Linked DNA regions of Homo sapiens: all the other regions are linked to region 2. Evidence: fine-mapped expression QTL. A gene starts in region 2. Each other region holds a variant in brackets. All regions are shown on one strand. Distances are between the middles of the regions. Region 1 overlaps KIN (Kin17 DNA and RNA binding protein). Region 2 holds the start of ITIH2 (inter-alpha-trypsin inhibitor heavy chain 2). Region 3 overlaps TAF3 (TATA-box binding protein associated factor 3).

Region 1 (5,309 bases), 51 kb before region 2:
TCAAATTTAATTTTAATTTTATTTAATTTAATTTTATTTTATTTTATTATTTATTTTCAAGACAGAGTCTCACTCTGTCGCCCAGGCTGGAGTGCAATGGCGCGATCTCAGCTCACTGCAACCTCTGCCTCCGGGTTCAAGAAATTCTTCTGCTCCAGCCTCCCAAGTAGCTGGGATTACAGGTGTGTGCCACCATGCCCAGCTAATTTTTATATTTTTAGTAGAGATAGGGTTTCACTATGTTGGTCAGGCTGGTCTCAAACTCCTGACCTCAGGTGATCCACCTGCCTCGGCCTCCCAAAGTGCTGGGATTACAGATGTGAGCACTGCGCCCGACCCAACTCTCAAATTTTAAACAAAAGATTAAATAATAATTAGAGTTGAAAATTATTGAGCTCTCACTCATATTAAGTTCCAGGTCTAGTCACTTTATATGAAATAACTCATTTATATTTCCCAACAACCCAATCATACAGACATTACCATTATTTCCACTGGGAGATAATAAGGCACAGAGAGGAAACTGAAGGACAGAGAGGTTAAATCAATTGTTGAAAGTGAGATTTGAACTTGGGGAGTGTAGGTTCACAGCCCATATTCTTAGCCTCTGTGTTCCCAGGTTATATCCGCTTTTGTGATAGAAAATATCTTTCATTAATTAAGTTTTCCTCTTTCCCTTTTTGTTCGATATGAAAGAAGAAAATAAAGTTAAAGTTGGACTCTTTTTATAATCTGGACCAGTGTAACTATCACAGCCAACCTAGACAAACATGTTTGAGTATCGTAATGCTTACAAAATGATATTTCCTATAAAAAAAAGAAAACCCCAAATGGACAATGGCACAAACATGGTAGAAGTTAACGTTTCACTCTAAAAACCCCAAATGGGTATTTTTGATCAGGGAACTCTTTCTAAGTGGCGATTTGTGAACCCAGGGTCCTTCCAGCTAGTGCCTCTACTGCCCTCAAGTGGCATCTCCAGTTGCCATGTCTGTGTGCACTGGGCAGGCAAAAGGAGCTTGGCAGATTGTGTGTCAGTTATAGCACGTCTGGACCGTCACTTCTGTTTGCTTTCATGGGCTGGAGCTCCATGCATGGCCACAGCTAACCACAAGGGAGCCAGGAAACTGGCTATTTATCCAGGAAGCAGAGGAGATACTGAACAGCTTGCAGGTCTCTGCCACAATGTCTATTGATAACGTATGTCAGATGTCACAGAAGAAAATATGGTAGTTCTTAATGAGAATGCCATAGATTATTCTTAAAATTCATAGATGTATACAAATGTTAACAATCTTAATGGTATTTTAGGGATGCGGAAAAGGCAAATTTGTATCCATAAGTATGGTGTCATTTTTTTGTCTTTTAGGAATATGTGTTTTTAACCTTATTTTAAATTATTTTAATTTGTAGGGCCCTTTAAAAGGACGCAGAGTTGAAGGAATTCAATATGAAGACATTTCTAAACTTGCCTGAGTTTGAAAATTTGTTAACAATACATTAAAATCTTAAAGCATCAAATTGGTGTTCGCCAAGGCATTATGAGACTCTACTGTGTTAGGGTATATTCTTTTGTATAAAACAAACAGGTTTTTGAAAATATTACTGTATAGTTGTTCAGCTAAACTTTGAGAAGAATTTAATTATGTCTCATGAGGTATCAAACTATGTAATTTTGTCCTTGTTATTTTTGTTTCCTTTGTAATTTACTTGATGAGTTTATATCTTCATTAAAGAATGTTATTATAAAGTGTTTTATCTATGACAATTTAGAATCATGTAATTGGAGGAAATCCTTCATACACTCTATATTTTCAGTAGTAGAGTAGTAAAGTTGAACTCTAAGTGTGACTAAATTTTAAATGTCAAACTATAAATATAGAAGCAGCTTTATTGTGGTAATAATTCATATACCATACAGTTCACTCATTTAAAATATACATACAATTCAGTGGTTTTTAGTATTTTTGCAGAATTGTGCAGCCATCACCACTGTCTGATTTTAAAACACTTTCATACCCCAAAATGAAACCCTTTAATAGTCAATCGCTATTTTTCCCCTCTGCCCTAGCCCTAGACAGCCACTAA[T/C]GTACTTTCTGTCTCTATGGATTTGCCCTTTCTGGACATTTCTTATAAATGGAATCATATAATATGTGATCTTTTATGACTGGCTTCTTACACTTAGCATCATGTTTTCAAGGTTTATCCATGCAGTAGCATGTAGGCGTGCTTCATTTGTTTTTATGGCTGCTTAATATTCCACTGTATGGATGTACCGTATTTTGTTTGTCCATTCATCAGCTGATAAACATTTAGATTGTTTCTACTTTTTGGCTATTGTGAATAATGCTGCCATGATCACCCATTTACAGGATTTTATGTGAACAGAAGCTTTCGCTTCTGCCAAACTCTTCCAGAGCAGCTATACCATTTTACAGTCCTACCAGCAATGTTGAACTATAGTTTTATTTGTTTTTAATTTTTTTACTTTTAGAGACATGGTCTCACTGTGTTGCCCAGGCTGCTGTCAAACTCCTGGGCTCAAGTGATCCTCCTGCCTCAGCCTCCCAAAGTGCTAGGATTGCAGGTGTGAGCCACAGCACCCTGCCTAACCATACAGTTTGAAATAAGTAGGGCAGTGTATTATTAGGGAATGCAAAAGACAGGAAACCCACATTTGCCTGTGCCAAAGGAAAAACGAAGGGATATTTGTAGTGCACATGACTGAAAGGAGCAGACGCTAGCTTCCAGGGCAGCGGGACCGGGTGTGAACAGCCTTCCCTGGGCTTCCGCTCTGTCTCTGGCTCCTGTGCTGGCTCTCTACATTTACATTCTTGAGCACTCTAGGTTTACATCTTACCCTTCAGCAGCACCGGGAAGAGAGAGATGATCTATCTTTTCTTTTTCTTTTTTTTTTTTTTTCTGACACAGAGTCTCACTCTGTCACCCAGGCTGATTGCAGTAGTGCAATCTCGGCTCACTGCAACCTCCACCTCCCGGGTTCAAGCCATTCTCCTGCCTCAGCCTCCTGAGTAGCTGGGACTACAGGCATGCGCCACCACGCCCAGCTAATTTTTGTAATTTTAGAAGAGATGAGGTTTCACCATGTTGGCCAGGATGGTCTCGATCTCTTGACCTTATGATCTGCCCGCCTCAGCCTCCCAAAGTGCTGGGATTACAGGCATGAGCCACTACGCCTCTTTTTTTTTGTTCTGTTTTTTGAGATAGGGTCTTGCTCTGTCATCCAGCCTGGAGTGCAGTGGCACAATCATGGCTCACTGCAGCCTCGTCCTCCTGGGCTTAGGTCATTGATTCTCCCACCTCAGCCTCCCGAGTAGCTGGGACTACAGGCATGCACTACCATGCCTGGCTAATTTTTTTGATTTTTAGTAGAGATGAGGTCTTGCTATGTTGCCCAGGCTGGTCTCAAACTCTTGAGCTCAAGCAATCCTCCTGCCTCGGCCTTCTAAAATGTTGTGATTACAGGTGTGAGCTACCACGCCTTGCCTGAGTTGATCTTCTACAAGAGTTCAAACAAAAAACAGACCATACCAGGATGATCACTTCAAACATGAGGATGGGTATAAGCTGACGTCAGACACAGGTATGGTGCCAAACCCTGGGATCTCTCTCTTTAACTGAGAGTCAGGGAGGGCTGATTGCTTCTATTCTCAGAAGATGGGAGAACGTATGCTGTTAGCAGAAATGTAAGAGGCAGTAAAGAAATACTAATAGGATGATGGCAGAAGCTTTACAGAAAATGTTCCTCAGGGATGAATTAAGGTTTTTCCAAAGTAACCTGACAGCACATTATGGAAAGCAACTGGGTTTTGGGTGTGGGCAGTCTTTAGATCAAATTCTGGCAGTTCTGTTCATTGGCTTTGTAATATTAGAATGTTAATGTTCTTGAATTGCAATGTTTTTAATGTATAAATTGTCAAAATGTTTTTCAGCAGGGTTGATGGGAGACCTACAGAAAATACATATAAATCATCAGACATGAAGTCCAGCACATAGTAGGTATTGAATAAATGGCAGTGAGTGGTCATGTCCAGAAATGAAGCCAAGAAGTTGAGCCTGGACTACTAAGAATCTGGTCTGAAGAATTTCAAAAAGGAGAATGGTTCTCCCTGATAACAAATAGTGATGAGTAAAACCAGACAAATTACATATGCCTCCCCCAAGTATGTACGTTTGGAATCAACTTGGTGGTTTTCTTCAGAGAAAAAATGTTTCATGTCTGCCTCCCACATTTAATTCTCCAACGTCTTTCTGAAATTATTTCAGAATGAAATGAGGCAGCATACTTGAGGTTAAATTCAATAAAAAATATCTGAAGCATAAAAATACGATTATAGACTTCACAGTAGTTTTTTCCCTCTGAGTCTGTAGAACTTGATAGAGTTTATGCTAAGCAAAATGACTGCAGATAACTAACAACAGGTCTCATATTAGACTTTGATTTTTGAAGTATCATAAGCTATTTTTCTTTATTTCAAACATAGACTTTACTTTTTAGAGCAGTCTCTGTGGGTTTTGACAAATGTATAATGACATGCATCTGCCACTGTAGTATCACACAGAACAGTTTCACTGCCCTAGAAGTTTCCTGTGTTCTGTCTGTTCCCTGTCTCCCCCCAAATCCCTGCTGACCGCTGATCTTTTTACTGTCTCCCTAGTTTTGTCTCCATCGAAGGTCATATAGTTGGAGTCACACAGGGTGTAGCTTTTTCAGATTGGCTTCTTTCACCTGGTAGAACATATGCATGTAAGGTTCCTCCATGTTGTTTTGGTTAGGTTTTTGTGGCTCGATAGCGCACTTCATTTTAGCACTGCATATTCTATTGTCTGAATGCACCACAGTTTATGCACTCACCTACTGAAGGATATCTTGGTTGCTTACAAGGTTTGGAAATTATGAGTAAAGCTGCTACAAACATCTGTGCGCAGGTTTTTTGTGGATAGACGTTTTCAACTTATTTACGTAACGACCAAAGAGCACAATTGCTGGATCATATGCCAGGAGTCTTCTGAGAAACTACCAACCTGTCTTCCAGAGTGACTGTACCATTTTGTATTCAAACGAGCAGTGAATGAGAGTTCCTGCTGCTCTGCATCTCCGTCAGCATTTGATGTTGTCAGTGTTCTGGATTTTGGCCATCTTAATAGCTGTACAGTGGGATCTTGTCATTGCTTTAATTTGCATTTCTTTGATGAAGTATGATGTGGAGCATCTTTTCATGGGCTTATTTGCCACCTGTATATCTTCTCTGGTGAGATGTCTTTCAGGTTTTTTGCCCATTATTTAA
Region 2 (5,000 bases):
GATCAGCTTAGGGTTGCTGCTTCCGTAAATACCTCCTCTCTCAGCATGTGGGCTCCGTGGGGAAGAAGCCAAGCCCTTCCTGGTGTTCTGGAAAACTCACCCCCTTAATTAGAGGGTTTTGTCTATACTGCTGCTGGTGGCCGCCAGGATTGCAACTTCCAATGTGGCCAATTCTCCTTCTCAGGTGCCCTCAGAGTGACCAGAGGAAGGAGATTGTGAGGCTGCAAGGGGGAGTGTCTGTCATCGCTAAAATAAGAAAAGTCTTCCTAACAGGAAATCCTTCCGGCAAGGCAGGAAATAATTTCGGAATCTTAAGTTTTGAAGAAAACACATAGCCATGTATTCTTTTTTTTTTTTTTTTTTTTAAATGGAGTGGGGACAGCGTCTCCCTCTGTTGCCCAGGCTGGTGCAATCATAGCTCACTGCAGCCTCGAACTCTTGGGTTCAAGTGATCCTCCATCTCAGCTTCTCAAATAGCTGGGATTACAGGTGCATGCCAGCTAATATATATATTAGCTGGGTGGCAGAGGTAGAGCCTCACTATGTTACCCAGGCTGATCTGGAACTCCTGGCCTCAAGTGATCCTCCCTCCTTGGCCTCTGAAAATGCTGTGATTATAAGTGGGAGCCACTGTGCTGAGTCGTGTACTCTTTAAGGGACTAAATTGAGCATTATGGTGTGAAGGCTGCTGAGCAGTTGTGTGAGTTTCTCTTTTTATTTCACCTGGGTGATCTCTTCCACCAAGGTGTAAGAAGTCTGGACTCTTCTGTGCTAAAAAACAAACTCTTAAGAAAATCTAGCAGAAGGCATCTTAACACTTGTCTTCTTCTGCCATAATCTCTTTCACTTTTTTTCCCCCTTTTGGGAGTAAACCTTACTATACCTGATATCTCCGGTTCTCTGCCACCAATTGAAATTTGCCTGGGGCCAGTTCCACAAGATCTTCATAGTCTACAAACTTAAAAAAAATTAGGATTTTAACTTTTTTTTTTTTAATTATACTGTAAGTTCTGGGGTACATGTGCACAACGTGCAGATTTGTTACATAGGTATACATGTGCCATGTTGGTTTGCTACACCCATTAACTCATCATTTACGTCAGGTATTTCTCCTAATGCTATCCCTCCCCTAGCCCCCCACCCCCTGACAGGCCCCAGTGTGTGATGTTCCCCTTCCTGTGTCCATGTGTTCTCGTTGTTCGACTCCCACTTATGAGTGAGAACATGCGGTGTTGGGTTTTCCCTTCTTGTGTTACTTTGCTGAGAATGATGATTTCCAAAAGATCTAGAGCCAAAGAGATAGCTGTTGGTATTCATTATTTTATATTCTTTCCTCTACCTCTGGGCAATCACAATTTTGTATAAAATGATTTCTTTAGTATATTTCTATTTGCTGGTTACGTCTCAGAGGTGTCCAAATGGAGGGTAACAACACCTTCGCATTTGTTGGACATGGGAATTCATTTTTGAGTTTGCCAGCAGGTGGTAAGACAGAGATCAAAACAACCCAGTGATTAGGTGGGTGTCTGGGGAAGTATCTGGGTAGACCCTGGAGGCATTTGCAGTGTCTGACTGGACAGACATGAACCATACATCTCCCCAAGTTAAAAATGTAGGTATTTTCTAAAAGGAAATGCCAGTTAGAAATGACTGAAAAAGCACAAACACATTTGGATGTCTTGGCTTCAATTTGAGATTTCTAACACACTCTGGTGGCTTTTAAGTGTTGGAAAATATGATAGTTTCAAAGCAGACAGAGTGATATTTTCCCTTTGTAAATATGCCGTCATATTCTCTGGCATTTTTATAGGTAATCCACTCTGCAAGTATTATAAGCCTTTGCATTTGCTGGGATGTTCCCATAACATGCTTCGCTTTTCTGGCATAAAAATAGCTCTTGTATGACTTTCAGAAACAGACTTTCAGTCCAAGACTTTCCTTACATTGGAGATGGCTAAGGGACAAAAGTGGAGACCTGTACTCCATGGGAATTATTCTTGTACTTTTCCACCCTGCCTGCTATCTTCCGCTTTAATAGGAATACTTAAAGTGCTCTTATTACAAATATCACTGTTCACTTAGATATGAAAAACAGTGTGCTTTGATAATGACTTTTCTTATACTCTTAGTAAAAGAGTGATAATATTTCTTCATCATCATAACAGCTAGTAATTATTAAGCACTTACTAGTCCAGGCGCTCTGCTAGAAGAGTTTACACTGTGTCATTTAATTCTCAAAGCAAACCATTGGGTTAGGTCTATTCTTACCCCCAATTTTTTAGGTGAGGAGTGAGCAGCTCTGCTCCATAAATGCTACGCTCTGATGCCTGCCCATTGATCTTGACTTAATTTTCATGCAAAACCTGTTAATGCTTTAAAAGGTAAATATACATTCCAGTAATTATAACAGTAAACACTTGCACTCAGATGAATTTTATCTTAAGTTTCCATTACACACAGAATAAGGCCATTGAATAGCGATTCCAATAGATGATTTACTGAGCTCATGAACAAGCCAACAGCAAGGAGTGATCTGTAAGTACTTACTTCAGAAAGTCCATTTATGGGGATTTCGAAGCCTGATACTTCAGAAAGAAAGAAGCAGATGAAAAAGCACGTGAGTCTTTTCATTTTGCTGGACAGTTTTGCCAAGCTCCCCAAAGCAGATGGTCTGGGGAGGATATCACTTCTTCCTACTGAACCAAGTTCAAAGGAACAGCAGAGGAGTACAGTTCGCTTTAAGAAAGAAGAAAAAAGAAGAAAAAACTCTCTAACTTTGTTCAAAATTGGGACAAATATTTGTTCTGGAGCTCAAACTTGAGCTGTGTGGGTGGATCGAACACCCAGAGGTTATTCAAACAGCAAAGTCAGAAGCAGTTGCTTACTGTGAGGACAAGTCAGGGGCAGATGGATGTGCTTGAATGTGCTTGTGTGCTTTTATTTTATTTTTATTTTTTATTTTTTGGCTTTTGCTGATTTCTATTGATCTTAAAATCAGAGAGACCTACAGATAATTGTCATCCTTTCTAAAGGACCAAGTGCAGAACTATTCCAAGAAACAAAATCCTTTGATCTAAATGAAAGCAGGAAAAATTTAGAAAAAGTGGGAGAAGACACAGAAGGGTTTTTCTGAGCAAAGAATTCATTGTGCATGTTTTCCCCTATCTCTTTGATGACTGTCTACCTGTTACCTATAAAGACCCAGGCAAGTGGCTGTGCAGGATACTAGGGCAGATCTTCAGTGAGAATGCTTCGTGAATGTCTTTGATTAAGGTAACAGTGTCTGTCCTGCTGCCCCTATCAGCCGGGCTCAGGTCAGTGGCAAATCAATACTCCCCAGTCTCAGAATTGGAGTGCAGTGGTGAGATCAAAGCTCATTGCAGCCTCAACTTCCCCCGGCTCAAGCAATCTGCCCACCTCAGCCTCCAGAGTAGCTGGACTACAGGTGTGCACTACACTGCCTGGCTATTTTTTGTAGAGATGGGATTTCATCATGTTGCTCATCCTGGTCTTGAACACCTGGGCTCAAGCTATCTGCTTGCCTCAGCCTCCGAAACTGCTGGGATTCCAGATGTGAGCCCCCATGCCTAGCCTCCATCCTGGTCAGATTCTATTTTTCTTGCAACAAACAGGAAATGTAACTTCTTGGATGCAACACTGAAATAGGAAGCTCCAGCTGTGGGCAGAATTACAATACAAGGGAGGTTGTCTTATCCTCAGGACCAAGCACCCCAGGCCAACTTCTGGGATCCTGGAGCTCCTTGCTACATTTAAAGCCCAATTCACAGGGCATGCAACAGAGAGTTTTCTGCATTTTCCTCCCTAGTTTCCCCTCAGTCTTCGAAATTGCACAGCCGTGTGTCTGCTGGAGAAACATAACTTCTGAAATAATGGAAGGGAGAAAACAGATTCTCCCCTCCCTTGCCTAGGTTGGACTAGTTGAGCGCCCACCTTGGCCAGTGAGTGCCTCAGTGGACCCCTCATGGAAAAATCCTGCCACAGCTTTGCATTCTTGACTGAGATACTGTTTCTGGAGAATTAAGACCCAATGGCAGCTGGGCGCGGTGGCTCACACTTGTAATCCCAGCACTTTGGGAGACTGAGGCGGGTGGATGACCTGAGGTCAGGAGTTTGAGACCAGCCTGGCCAACATAGTGCAACCCCGTCTCTACTAAAAATACAAAAATTAGCCAGGTGTGGTGGCATGCGCCTGTAATCCCAGCTACTTGGGAGGCTGAGGCATGAGAATTGCTTGAACTGGGGAGGCGGAGGTTAGAGTGAGCTGAGATCACGCCACTGCATTCCACCTGGGCAACAGGGCAAGACTTGGTCTCAAAAGAAAAAAATAAATAAATAATAAAAAACCCAATGGCATGTTCTCCCAAAAACAGCAGTGACTTTCAAAATCATACCTCCTTCCATTGATCATTTCCTTTCTGATTATTTTAATCTGATATTCAGAATTATCTCAGAATAAACCAAACCAAAAGCAGGCTGGACTTTTTTCCATGCTGATACTCTGTCTTCAGATCCCAAAGTCCTTTTTTTTTTTTTTTTTTGAGAGGGAGCGTCACTCTGTGGCTCAGACTCAAGCGCAATGGCATGATCTTGGCTTACTGCAACCTCCACCTCCCAGGTTCACGCGATTCCCCTGCCTGAACCTCCCAAGTAGCTGGAATTACGGGCGTGCACCACCACAACTAACTTTGTATTATTTTTTTTAAAGTAAAGATGGGGTTTCACCATATTGGTCAGGCTGGTCTCAAACTCCTGACCTCGAGTAATCCACCTGCCTCAGCCTCCCAAAGTGTTGGGATTATAGGCGTGAGCCACTGTGCTCAGCCTGATCCCAAATTCTTGAAAACAAAACAAAACAAAACAACATTTGCTCTCTCTCTCAATGTTCAGAAGCACGACCGCGTAGGCTGTGTATTCAGGCTACTGAGTCTTGAACCTGAGACCCTTTCCCCTTGCACTCCCCACCCCACTGCCAACCCCTC
Region 3 (5,332 bases), 130 kb before region 2:
TCACTGCAGCCTCAGCCTCAACCTCCCAGACTCAAGTGATCCCCCTACCTCAGCCTCTGAGTACTTACACCACCTCAGCCTCTCAGGCTTACATCACCACTCTTGGCTAATTGTTTTATTTTTTATTTTTTCTGAGACAGAGTCTTGCTCTTTTGCCCAGGCTGGAGTACACTGGTGCAATCTCAGATCACTGCAACCTCTGCCTCCCAGGTTCAAGCAAATCTTGTGCCTCAGCCACCCGAGTAGATGAGATTACAGGCACGCACCACCACGCCCAGCTAATTTTTGTATTTTTAGTAGAGACGAGGTTTCGCCATGCTGGCCAAGCTGGTCTTGAACTCCTGGCCTCAAGTGATCAGCCCGCCTCAACCTCTCAAAGTGCTGAAATTACAGGCATGAGCCACCACACCCAGCTGACTTTTTTTTTTTTTTTTGCCCAGACTGGAGCACAGTGGTGCAATCTCGGCTCACTGCAACCTCCACCTCCCTGGTTCAAGCAATTCTCCTGCCTCAGCCTCCCGAGTAGCTGGGACTACAGGCCCATGCCACCATGTCCAGCTAAATTTTGTATTTTTAGTAGAGACAGGATTTCACCCTGTTGGCCAGGCTGGTCTTGAACTCCTGACTTCAAGCAATTTGCCCACCTTGGCCTCCCAAAGTGCTGGGATCACAGGTGTGAGCCACCACGCCTGGCCAGATTTTTAAATTTTTTATAGAAACAAGGTCTCACTATGTTGTCCAGGCTGGTCTCAAATTCCTGGGCTCAAACGATCCTCCTGCCTTGGCCTCCCAAGTGCTGGGATTATAGGCATGAGCCATCACACTCAACCAAAGCTCTTTTCATTTTGATGCAAAAAAGAAAACTCCTCTCCATAGGTATTTTTGGTAACTGTAAGCAGTTGGAGAGCCAACAAAGTGTTTTATAATGTGGGATGTGTTAATTTTTTGTCTAATAGTTTCGTTTAGAGGATAAGGACAGTTCAGACAAGAGATAAAGGTTTAAACAAAGGAAGTGATGCAATAATATTTTGGAAATTTTTTAAGAAAGAAAATTAGCAGAATTAGAGATAGGGAATGAAGGAGAATGAGAGAAGAGGTCAATGCTAATTCTCATGTTTCTAGCTTAGGTGACTGAGTAGAGATGGTGCCACCAACTGAGATGGATAACACAGGTGTATTCGTGGTAAGAAAATGTGGAAATGGGCCGGGTGCAGTGGCTCACGCCTGTAATCCCAGCACTTTGGGAGGCCAAGGTGGGCAGATCACCCAAGGTCGGGAGTTCAAGACCAGTTTGACCAACATGGAGAAACCCCGTCTCTACTGAAAATACAAAATTAGCTGGGCTTGGTAGCTCATGCCTCTAATCCCAGGTACTCGGGAGGCTGAGACAGGAGAATCACTTGAACCAGGGAGCCGGAGGTTGTGCCATTGTACTCCAGCCTGGGCAACAAGAGCGAAACTCCGTCTCAAAAAAAAAAAAAAGAAAGAAAAAAGAAAACGTGGAAATGGCCAACTGCAACTGGTTGCAGGGTCTGAGAGGTGGATGTAGAGGGACAGTTTGGGGAGGCATCAGCATACAGATGGGGGTTCAAACTATGAGAGTAGGAAAGTCAACTCTGAAACTAAGTAACGTGAGAAACATAGTAGGTGAAGGATAAAATTTTAGAAGCACCAATGTTTTAGCAGTAGGAGAGCCAGGGAAGACGTGCCCAAGAAAGGCCCCAAGATGGAGCTCATCATATAAGGAGAGTTAAGGGAGTATGATGGCGCTGAAGAAAAGCAGCTTCAGGAATTGCCCAACAGTGATGAAAGCAGCAAAAAGCTTCAATAAGGGGAATCCTGGGAAGAAAGTGGTAGCTGGGGCAAGGTAGTTTGTGCATCTTCCCAACATAACCAGGTGACAGAGTACACCCATCAGTGCCAAAATACATGCAGGTGACAACATGCCACCAAGCGCCATGAGACCCGAGTATGAGGCATCTATGCAAGGGAAACAGTGAGAAGCAACGGGAAGACTGACCTGAAACAGGAAAACCCCAAAAGGGCCACCAGGCCTCTGCTGGAAAGCCCGGCAGGCCAACCCGAGAAGAGCGGCTGAGGCTGGGAAGGATGGGACCACTTCCAGTACAGGGAGTACAAGGGGCTGAGTGAGATCCAATGGGGCTAGAAGTTGAGCCCAGGAGCTCTCAGACTTGACCCTGGCTGCTCTCTGCCAGGACAGAGCCTCGCTGAGAGGACACAGCTGGCAGTGGAATCACAGCTGGCCAGAAAAAGGAAAACTGACATGAAGGGAAGAGAAGATCCAGGTAAAAGTGGTGGAGGAAAACAAACAAAAAATCTCAGTGAGCAAGTTCCCATATTTGGAACATTCCGCAAAAACGATAGAAGAGGGAGCACTGCAAAGTCAGAGGAGCTACCCTGAATCTCCTTCTAAAGCAAGCTTGTCAACCCACAGCCCATGGGCCATATGCGGCCCAGGACGGCTTTGAATGCAGCCCAACACAAAGTTGTAAACTTTCTTAAAACATTATGACTTTTTTGTGTGTGACTTTTTTTTCTAGCTCAGCAGCTATCGATGGTGTTAGTGTATTTTATGTGTGGCCAAAGACAATCCTTCTTCTTCCAGTGTGACCCAGGGAAGCCAAAAGATTGGACACCTGTGTTCTAAAGGCTCAGAAAACTAACTCACATATAGTTTCTATAAAGAAGAGAAGACTAAATAGCAAAACATCCCTCCAGACAATGAAAGTACGAGAGAAACACACACTCGAAAAAACTGATGAACCTATAATG[T/C]TCTATCTTGAAATGATCTAAAAGACATGAAAGTATATAAATCAAAATCAGAAAAAACTCAGAAATTAGGTAGCAGAACTCAAGACAGTAGCTATATGATCTGACAAGATACACACGGTAAAATGAAAGAAAATTGGTTTCATAGGACAGAATGAGCAAAAAAAATTTTTTTTACCTGTTTCAGTAATCATGAATGATAGTATCAGTTGCAATATTGTACGTGTAATCTGGGATAAAGCAAATGAATAATTATGGAATATTCTAATTTTATCATCTTCTTTATTCCTGAGAACCAGAATTCTCAGTATGGATGACAGTATTTATGGATGTAACATAAAAAATAAAAACCTTGTAGTCCTAAATATGAATTGGAAAATCTGCATGAACTCAGGAGGAACCCTATCCACCTATCTATCTATTCACACACATCTACATGTATATAAATATTTATTTACTTATTGCCTAGAAACAATGAACAACCGAGTTATATATAATAAGTATCCCTTAGCACCGAGACTGTGTACTTGAAATGCTATTTCCCAGCGTGGAGACAACTGGATATCCATATGCAGAAGAATGAAATTGGATCCTTATCTCATACCACTTAGAAAAATCAACTCAAAATGGAATAAAGACCTAAATGTAAGACTTGAAACTACAAAACTGCTAAAAGAAAACATAGGGGAAAAACTGTAAGACACTGGTCTGGGCAATTATTTTTTATATTTGGCCCCAAAAGCGCAGGGTGACAAAAGCAAAACTGAACAAATGGGATTCCATCAAAATAAAAAGCTTTGGCACAATAAAGGAAACAGCAGAGTGAAGGCACAACCTGTGGGTGAGGAGGAAAACACGTGCACCCACACATCTGACAAGGGGCTCACGCCCAAAACATGTAAGCAACTCAACAACAACAAGAGCCACAACCACCACCAAAAAAAAAGGCAAAATATATAAGGAACCCAAACAACTCTATAGAAAGAACAGTCTGGCTGTTGTCCTGTGCCGGAGGACAGCAGGCAGCCATGGTGCCCAGCGGGAATGGCAAGATCTTGAAGCCCCACTTCCACACGCACTGTGCAGCGGCTGAAGGGGTACCGCTCCAAACTCATCCTCTTCCCCAGGAAGCCCTCGGTCCCCAGGAAGGGAGACAGTTCTGCTGAAGAACTGCAATTGGCCACCCAGCTGACAGGACCAGTCATGCCCATCCAGAATGTCTATGAGAAGGAGAAAGCTCAAGTCACCACTGAGGAGAAGAATTTCAGAGCCTTTGCTAGTTGCTGCATGGCCCGTGCCAATGCCTGGCTCCTCCACATATGGACAAAAAGAGACATGGAAGCTACAGAACAGGATGTTGAAAAGAAAAACTGAAGCCCTCTTGGGGACTTGTAATAAATCAGCAGTATTGCTGGGTCCCCAAAAAAGGAAAAAAGAAAACCCTACAGAAAGAAATAATCCAATAAAAAATGAATAGACATTCCTCAAAATAAGACATACAAACTGCCAACAAATACATGAAAAAATGTTCAACATTACTAATCATTACAGAAATAAAACCACAGTGAGATATTACCTCACACCTGTTAGAATGGCTGCTATAAAAAAGATGAAAGGTAACAAGTGTTAGCAGGGATGTGGAGAAAAGGGGGAATCCTTGTACACTGTTGGTGGGAATTTAGATTAGTAGTCATGGAAAACTATGTGGAGTTTCCTCCAAAAACTCAAAATAGAATTACCATATAATCCAGCAACCCCACTCCTGAGTATTTACCCAAAAGATTTGAAAAGATTATGTGGAAGAGATTCTGCTCTCCCAAGTTCACTGCAGCACTGTTCCCAATAGCCAAGTTACAGAAATAACCTAAGTGTCCATTAACAGATGAGTGGATAAAGAAAATGTAATATATATACACCACAGAATACTATTCAGCCTTTAATAGCACCACAGGGTGACTAAAGTCAACAATAATTTATTGAACATTTTATCTCGAACTCCTGGCCTCAAATCATCCTCCTGCCTCAGACTCCCAAAGTGACAAGATTACAAGTGTGAGCTACTGCACCCTGTACATTTAAAAATAACTAAAAGAGTATAACTGGAATATCTGTAGCACAAAGAAATGATAAATGCTGGGCCAGGTGCAGTGGCTCATGCCTGTAATCCCAGCACTTTGGGAGGCTGAGGTGGGCAGATCACTTGAGGCCAGGGGTTTCAGACCAGCCTGGCCAACATGGTGAAATCGCATCTCTACTAAAAACACAAAAATTAGCCGGGTGTGGTGGTGGGCACCTGTAATCCCAACTACTGGGGAGGGTGGGGCACAAGAATCACTTAAACTTGAACCTAGGAGATGGAGCTTGCAGTGAGCTGAGATCACACCACTGCACTCCAGCCTGGGTGACAGTGCGAGACTGTCTCAAAAATAAATAAATAAATAAGAAAGAAATGATAAATGCTTCAGGTGGTAAATATCCAATTTAGTCTGATGTAATTACTACACATTGTGGTGTGCTTTTATTAAAATTCTTATGTACTCCA

The links. PIP is the estimated chance that this variant, and not a neighbour inherited with it, causes the effect.
Region 1: its variant is fine-mapped to the expression of ITIH2 in tibial nerve (GTEx, PIP above 0.99).
Region 3: its variant is fine-mapped to the expression of ITIH2 in tibial nerve (GTEx, PIP above 0.99).

Annotation. Positions count from the first base shown.
Region 1 is chr10:7,752,247-7,757,555 of GRCh38, reverse strand. It overlaps KIN (Kin17 DNA and RNA binding protein), which reads left to right. Exons shown (of 13, transcript NM_012311.4): 13 at 1,414-5,309. The coding sequence ends at 1,476. Among named protein-coding and RNA genes, the nearest start is that of KIN, 33 kb to the left of the region's middle. The variant T/C (reference allele first, on the strand shown) is at 2,089.
Region 2 is chr10:7,701,066-7,706,065 of GRCh38, reverse strand. It overlaps ITIH2 (inter-alpha-trypsin inhibitor heavy chain 2), which reads right to left and starts at 2,750. Exons shown (of 21, transcript NM_002216.3): 1 at 2,548-2,750; 2 at 884-958. The coding sequence starts at 2,631.
Region 3 is chr10:7,832,444-7,837,775 of GRCh38, reverse strand. All of the region lies in intron 2 of TAF3 (TATA-box binding protein associated factor 3), which reads right to left. Among named protein-coding and RNA genes, the nearest start is that of TAF3, 17 kb to the right of the region's middle. The variant T/C (reference allele first, on the strand shown) is at 2,794.